Linked DNA regions of Homo sapiens. The protein of the gene in region 1 purifies or fractionates together with the protein of each later gene. This does not show direct contact. Each region holds a gene or a part of one and is shown in the gene's direction. Other genes may lie near its edges. The genes, in order: TMEM106B and STK11IP.

Region 1 (3,817 bases):
TTGGTAGCATTGTTTTCTAAAATATTTTAAATGGAGAATGAACACTTATAAAATGCTTTGGAACATAATCTTTAGCTTAATTTTCTGTTAAAATTTAGTACCCCTTCATCATTCCAATAAAGATAAGACTGATCCATTGTCTAAGGAAATTATTTATAAATAATAGAGATTAATTTATTTGAGATTTGAAATAAGAATAGTATGAAAATATTAGATACCACATAAATTGTTTGAAATTACTGAATAACCATCTTAAGTATGGAACATTTAAATGGCTATATTTTATTTGTGTACAGTTTTTCTGTGCCTTGTTAGGCCAGTGAAGCAATTATTTTCTCTAAGAAAATGACAATAAAATATAACACACTTCAGATTGTCTGATTTACAGTTTGGAAAGGACACCGCAATGTTCAAATAGGTAGGAGACCATCAAAAACACAATTAAAGTAACATATTAGGAGACTTGAAACTTCAGCCTAATAAATCCTTCATGGTTCTTAGCCTTATTATTGTGATATAATTCTAGATATTTTCTTGGAGGGCATGTGCCCAACTCTCCCGCACCCCATTTTGTTTGTCTTTTAAAGTTCTTAGAATAAACAGTTCTTTATATAATAATTATATTTTATTTAAGAAAATAGTTTGTTAGGTACTTTTTAAAAGATGTAAATTTTTAAATTTACAAATACATATGGGTCTTTGATAAGCAATAGGAATTGAATTACAAGTTACTAGGGTTATAAGCAAAAGGTTGCTTACCATAATGTCATTAGGTCACGATTTTTAGCTCACATCTGGAAGCAGCAACTACTTGGCTCAAGTACATATAAGAGTAATTAGTTTTATTCTCTCTTTTTTATAAAATCGGGTTTCAGATGAGATGTTTATCTTAGACTATTTTAGGGAAAAATTTTACATGTTTGAGATGGTGGAGTAAAAAGACTGTTAAACATTTCTTTTAAAAAATTATTTTTACATTACAACAATATATTTATGATGTGTTCAGATCAAAAATTTAACTTCTGTGTCCCAGATCTACTTTCAAAGTGAGATTTTCACTTGTCAGCTTAAATTTCTGACTAGAACTAACATTTGTGTATTTTTGTGCTTAGTCGGAATACAAATTTCACAGTGGATTTTTGAAGTTTGTCCTTAAATTGGATAAAATCAAGTGATTAAAGTTACTAAAGAGATAAAAATGGTAATTTCCATTTTTAAAAGTAATTTGGTTGTGTTTATAGTTATTTGTACAAGTATTTATCACAGACTCTAAATTGAAAAATGTAGTATGATCTATATTTGACCCTAAAAATGTTGGATTAATTTAACAAATATGGCAGATTTTTCATAACTAAGTCTTAAGTCTTCTAAAAGGAAGCTGTTACCCTTCTGTTTTTAATTACATTAATTGAAATGTGTTTTAAGAGATACAATTTCAGCATATTTTATATATTAAAAAACAAAAAAGGATTAGTATTGAGCCAGTGGCCAAAAGGTAATATTACTACCATGTAGACTGTTATAGTTCAAATTGTCCCACTTCACCCAGAATTTTAGAAACTAGAAGTCTGGGAGGTACTATATCAGCTGTAGTTGGGTAATTCCAAGTGCTGATAGTACTATTCATCTTTTTTATTATTGTGTCAGATGAAACAAATGCCAAGTTGCAAAATATGCAGATTTTTATTATATAATGGTTTTAGGCATAAATTATTAACAAGCCATGCCTTATGTGTTTCATCTTATATTTTTCTTTAGAACTAAACTATAACAGATTTTGGAAAATGATTTGACGTGCTTGCTCACTTGATTGACTTGGTCAGATATTTGAATGATGGTATTACCTAGATTCTAATCCTTGATTCTAGTTATATAATAAATAATATAGAATATGAAAATATGTTTGGGCATTTACTGTTTATATTATGTAGTAGCCTCCATCATGACACACTTACTACATTTATGAATTGAGCAGTTCTGTAATTGTAATTATTATTGCTGTTCATGTAACAAAACATGCTTATAATAGCAAACAAATAGAAATGCCCCCAAAATGCTATTTTTTTAATTCAGTTATAACTGTTACTCTTGTAGTTGTGTATGACGCAATAAAATTTGTAAAAAAATTTCAGCATGAAAAATAAAATTTGTATCACTTATGTATTTTGGCTATGCTTTTGAAATTTCCTTAACATAAACAAATCAGTGTAGATATTCAAAATCTTTTACCTTTAATCCTTTTCATCCTTATAGTCCTTACCTGAACTCTACTTTAGCATTATCTTTGATTTCTTTTTTTCATTCACTTAACTTCCAATCAGTACTCAAGCTTTATCCATTCTACCTCTGTAATGTCTCTGGAATTTATCTCATACGTGAAATTTCCCTTGATATTATAGACATACCTTGGATATATTGCAGGTTTGGTTCCACACCATATCGATAAAGTGATATAATCAAGCAAGTTACACACCTTTTTTTGGTTTCCCAGTGCATATGAAAGTTATGTTTACATCATACTGTAGTCTATTAAGTGTGCAATAGCATTATGTCGAAAAACACAATATATATGCCTTAATAAAAAATAGGCTGTGTGCAGTGGCTCACACCTGTAATCCCAGCACTTTCGGAGGCCAAGGTGGGAGGATCACCTGAGCCCAGAAGTTCAAGACCAAATTGGTCAACATGGCGAGACCCCATATAAAATATATACATACACACACACACACACACACACACACACACACACACACACTATTGCTAAAAAATGTTAACGATCATCTGAATGTTCAGAAGTTTATACTCCTTTTGCCGGCACAGGATCTTGTCTGGATGTTGTTTGCTGATAGATCCATGTAGTGGTTACTAAAGTTGGGGTGGCTATGGCAATTTCTTAAGACAACAATGAAGTTTATCACATCTATTGCCTTGTCCTTTCATGAAAGATGTCTCTAGCATGTGATGCTGTTTTGATAGCATTTTACCAATGGTAGGTCTTTTTTCAAAATTGGAGCCAGTCCTCTCAAACCCTGCCTCTGCTTTATCGACCATGTTTAAATAATTTTCTAAATTCTTTATTGTCATTTCAGCAGTGGTCTCAGCATCTTCACCAGGAGTAGATTCCAACTCAAGAAACCACTTTCTTAGCTCATTCATAAGAAACAATTCCTCATCTGTTCAAGTTTTGGCATCAAGTTGTAGCAATTCAGTCACATCTACAGACTCCATTGCTAAATTTTAGTTCTCTTGCTATTTCCACATCTGCTGTGACTTCCTTCACTGAAGTCATGAACCCCTCAAAATTATCCATGAGAGTTGAAATCAATTTCTTTCAAACTCCTGTTAATGTTCATATTTAGACCTCTTCCCCTGAATCACAAATGTTGTTAATGGCATCTAGAATGGCAAATCCTTTCTGGAAGGTTTCAATTTACTTTGCCCAGATCCATCAGAGGAATCACTACCTATGACAGCTATGGTCTTACAAAATGTATTTCTTATATAGTAAGATTCAAAAGTCAAATTTACTCCCTGATCCATGGCTGCAGAATGCACGTTGTGTTAAGAGGCATGAAAACAACATTAATCTATTTGTACATCATCAGAGCTGTTGGGTGACCAGGTACATTGTCAATGAGTAGTAATACTTTGAAAGGAATTTTTTTTTCCAAGCAGGTCTCAACAATGGGCTTAAAATATTCAGTGAACCGTGTTGTAAACAGATGTCATATTATCCAGACTGTTCCATTTATTGAACACAGGCAGAGTAGGTAAAAGTTTTAAGGGTCCTAGGATTTTCAGGATGGCAAATGAGCAT
Region 2 (3,817 bases), on another chromosome or scaffold:
GCCCAAGTCTGTAAGAGGGCATAAGAGCAGGTCCTGGTTGTGTTTGGCCCAGTCTGAGAGGGCCTAGAGTTAGAAGGTAGAGTGCACTTTGAGGAGTTTGTGGGCCAGGGTTAGCTCATCCCTCCCTGGGGTGGGGAGTGATCAGTTGGCAGCTGTGCCGGGAGAGGGAGCTGGTGGCCTGGGGCGCGGTGGTTGTGTATGAAGCTGGAGGCTTGGGCTCAGGGGAGACCTGAGCATGGGGAAGGAGCATCGTGAGCATGGTGGGAGTTGTGGCACTGTGGGGGGGGCTCATGGGGACCGTGTCCATCCTCCCTCCAGAATCTCCTGCTGTGTGTCCTAACTGTGGTAGTGACCACGTGGTTCTCCTCGCTGTGTCTCGGGGAACCCCCAACAGGGAGCGGAAACAGGGAGAGCAGTCTCTGGCTCCTTCTCCGTCTGCCAGCCCTGTCTGCCACCCTCCTGGCCATGGTGACCACCTTGACAGGGCCAAGAACAGCCCACCTCAGGCACCGAGCACCCGTGACCATGGTAGTTGGAGCCTCAGTCCCCGTGAGTATAGGCAAAACAAGACATAGATGAGTTTGGGGAAGGGAAGGGGCACTGATGGGGAGGTGGAGATGGAGCCCAGGGGCTGCCATGGGCAGGCTGATGCCCCCTCATTGCCCTCAGCCCCTGAGCGCTGTGGCCTCCGCTCTGTGGACCACCGACTCCGGCTCTTCCTGGATGTTGAGGTGTTCAGCGATGCCCAGGAGGAGTTCCAGTGCTGCCTCAAGGTCTGTGCTCCCTGACACTGCCCATGCCCCCAGCTGTCCAGGGTGCCCACTCGTTTCCATCACAGCCAACTGAGTCAGATCAAGCACTCTAGAGACCTGATCTGGCTTCTGGTTTCAACCCCAGCAGCTTCTTGCTGTGTGGCCGTGGACACATTCCCTGGTATTTGAGTCCCAGTTGTTGCCTGTCTGCAATGGAGATAACGATGCCTCCCTTACACAGTGGCGTGCGTCAGGGCTCATGTTGAAGCTGCCCAGCCCAGCACCTGGCACTCATCAATGGGGCCTCCTAGCATTATTATAAACACATGATGTCGTTAGGCCTTTGTTGAGCACCTGTTGTGCTAGACATTGAGGATCTACAGATCAATCTTGCCCTTGATCTTACAGTCTGGTGTGAGAAGCTGACAATGATTATGCAATATGCAAATGCTGTAATCGGGCTAAGGCCCTTGAAGGGGTGTCTAGTCCAGCTTGAGTGGGTCAAGGAACCTTCCTGGGAGGTGATGTCTAAGCTCAGTCTTGAAGGGTAAGTTAAGGAGTAGGGAGGAAAAGAATGTCTTAGGTAAAGGAAGCCGCAAATGCATGGAGGCCCGAGAGTGTCGCTGGTGGGGAGAACTGCCCAGGATGAGGGCACCTGGACATGCAGGGCGAGGGGCAGGGGTCCTGAGAGGACTCTGGGGGGCCGGCAGGGGCCAGGTCAGGAGCTGCCTCCTGTGTCTGCCAAGGAGTTTGGACTTGTTTCTGAGGGCCACTGGGAGCCACTGAAGGATTTGAAATGGGGCAGTGATGGTCAGTTTTGTGCCTTAGAATAGTTAGTCTGGCGGAGCGTGGAGGGGGTGAGGCGACAGGCAGGGAAGCCAGCTGCTGAGGCTCTGAGCGGGCAGGGGCTGCAAGGCAGAGAGCGGTGGTGGATGAAGAGGCTGTCGAGTGTGAGGGAAGCTCCATAGACTGGTGGGTGGGCAGTGGGAGGGTCAGGCCGAGGGTGCTGTCACCAGGAACTCGGCTTTCAGTCTGGCCCCACCTCCCCAGGCCTCTCATCAGGTTTCTCACCAACTTCCTCTTCCCCCAGGTGCCAGTGGCATTGGCAGGCCACACTGGGGAGTTCATGTGCCTTGTGGTTGTGTCTGACCGCAGGCTGTACCTGTTGAAGGTGACTGGGGAGATGCGGTGAGTGAGAGGGGAGATGCAGTGAGTAAGGGGGGAGATGGGGTGAGTTGGGGGGAGATGGGGGAGTGAGGGGGAAGATGGGGTGAGGGGGGAGATGGGGTGAGTGAGGGGGGAGATGGGGTGTTAAGGGGGGAGATGGGGTGAGTGAGGGGGGAGATGGGGTGAGAGAAGGGGGAGATTGGGTGAGTGAGGGGGAGGTGGGGTGAGTGAGGGGGGAGGTGGGGTGAGTGGGGGGGAGGTGGGGTGAGTGGGGGGGACGTGGGGTGAGTGAAGGGGGAGATGGGGTGAGTGGGGGGCGGAGATGGGGTGAGTGGGGGGCGGAGATGGGGTGAGTGAGGGGGGAGATGGGGTGAGTGAGGGGGAGATGGGGTGAGTGAGGGAGGAGATGGAATGAGGGGGAAGATGGGGTGTGGTGAGCGCACGGGGGTGATGCAGTGAGTGAGGCAGGTGCAGCTGGGGCAGGGCCTCTCTGGGACTCTCACTCCACTCTCATGCTTCTCCATTGCTCTGTCCCCTCTCTCCACAGTGAGCCTCCAGCTAGCTGGCTGCAGCTGACCCTGGCTGTTCCCCTGCAGGATCTGAGTGGCATAGAGCTGGGCCTGGCAGGCCAGAGCCTGCGGCTAGAGTGGGCAGCTGGGGCGGGCCGCTGTGTGCTGCTGCCCCGAGATGCCAGGCATTGCCGGGCCTTCCTAGAGGAGCTCCTTGGTGAGAGAGGGGAGGGGAAGGCAGGAGGGTGGGCAGGAGGGTGGGCAGGGCCTTGGGGCCAGGCTCCCCACCTGGTACCCAGTAGCGGAGACAGAGAGGTAACAGGACTTGTCCCTTGTAGAAGTTTCTGAAATCCAGAAATGTGGAGAATAGGAAGGGATTGAGAGGTGGTGAGTTTAGGCTGGAGGAGAGCAGAGCCTTCTAAAGTTCCCTGGCCTGCCTCTGTCTAGATGTCTTGCAGTCTCTGCCCCCTGCCTGGAGGAACTGTGTCAGTGCCACAGAGGAGGAGGTCACCCCCCAGCACCGGCTCTGGTGAGTCGATAGGAGGCAGAGGCTGGGGTTGCTGCCCAATCCTCTTTCCACAGAGCCCCAGACATGGCCCTGTGCTGAGTAGGTCCTGGGCAGCCACCTGTCCTCATGCCATGCCCCTTATGGGCCCCTAGTGTCTCCTCCCAACCCCCTGCAGGGCTTTCTTCCCACTCCCCTCTCTTCAAGTCCTTCCCACCCGCTAGCTGATCTTCCTGTGCCTGCCATATTCCCTCTAGGCCATTGCTGGAAAAAGACTCATCCTTGGAGGCTCGCCAGTTCTTCTACCTTCGGGCGTTCCTGGTTGAAGGTGAAGCCTCTGTGCAGCTGATGCTTCCCTGGTCTCTGTACCCTACCTTGTCACAGGCACTGGCCCACGCGCAGCACCTGTACAGTGCCCTTGCAGCAACTGTCAGTTCCTGGAACCTGGAGAACCTCTCACTTGAGGGCATAGCTGAGTAACAGCCTCAGTGTGCCCTGACCCTCTGGGTGGGGTTAGGAGGCACCCAGGATCCTCAGTTACCCAGAGCCTTTGCTCTCGGGCCCAGGCTTTCTATGAAGTGGAGCAGCGTGGCTGAGTCGGCCCTGCCTCATCAGTCACAGAAGGAGAGGGTGGAGCCTTGTTTCTGAGTAGGGTGGGTGTGGGGCAGTGGGGGGCGGTAGGCCTCAGAGGTATTCCAGAGTAGAGATTCATGGAGCTTGGGAAAGGGAGGGTCTTGGCCCCAGGGGCACAGGCTGCTTTGTGACCCACCTCAGAGTGTGGTTCACACCTCTTCTCCCCAGCAGCACTGGGACGCTGGCCCCAGGGATCTGGGCCCCTCCATGACCTTCCACACTGGATGCCTCTTTCCCTGCAGGCCCTTCCA

What was found.
Region 2: the proteins of TMEM106B (region 1) and STK11IP purify together in Homo sapiens (affinity purification with mass spectrometry; one large-scale study listed by BioGRID and IntAct). This does not show direct contact.

The regions. Positions count from the first base shown.
Region 1 is NC_000007.14:12,235,102-12,238,918, forward strand, and holds part of TMEM106B (transmembrane protein 106B), read left to right. Parts: 3' UTR 1-3,817. UniProt on the Homo sapiens protein: In neurons, involved in the transport of late endosomes/lysosomes. May be involved in dendrite morphogenesis and maintenance by regulating lysosomal trafficking.
Region 2 is NC_000002.12:219,611,286-219,615,102, forward strand, and holds part of STK11IP (serine/threonine-protein kinase 11-interacting protein), read left to right. Parts: exon of another isoform or gene 1-76; intron 77-318; coding exon 319-549; intron 550-669; coding exon 670-773; intron 774-1,842; coding exon 1,843-1,940; intron 1,941-2,466; coding exon 2,467-2,645; intron 2,646-2,875; coding exon 2,876-2,957; intron 2,958-3,190; coding exon 3,191-3,261; coding exon of another isoform or gene 3,262-3,404; exon of another isoform or gene 3,405-3,586; intron 3,587-3,808; coding exon 3,809-3,817. UniProt on the Homo sapiens protein: May regulate STK11/LKB1 function by controlling its subcellular localization.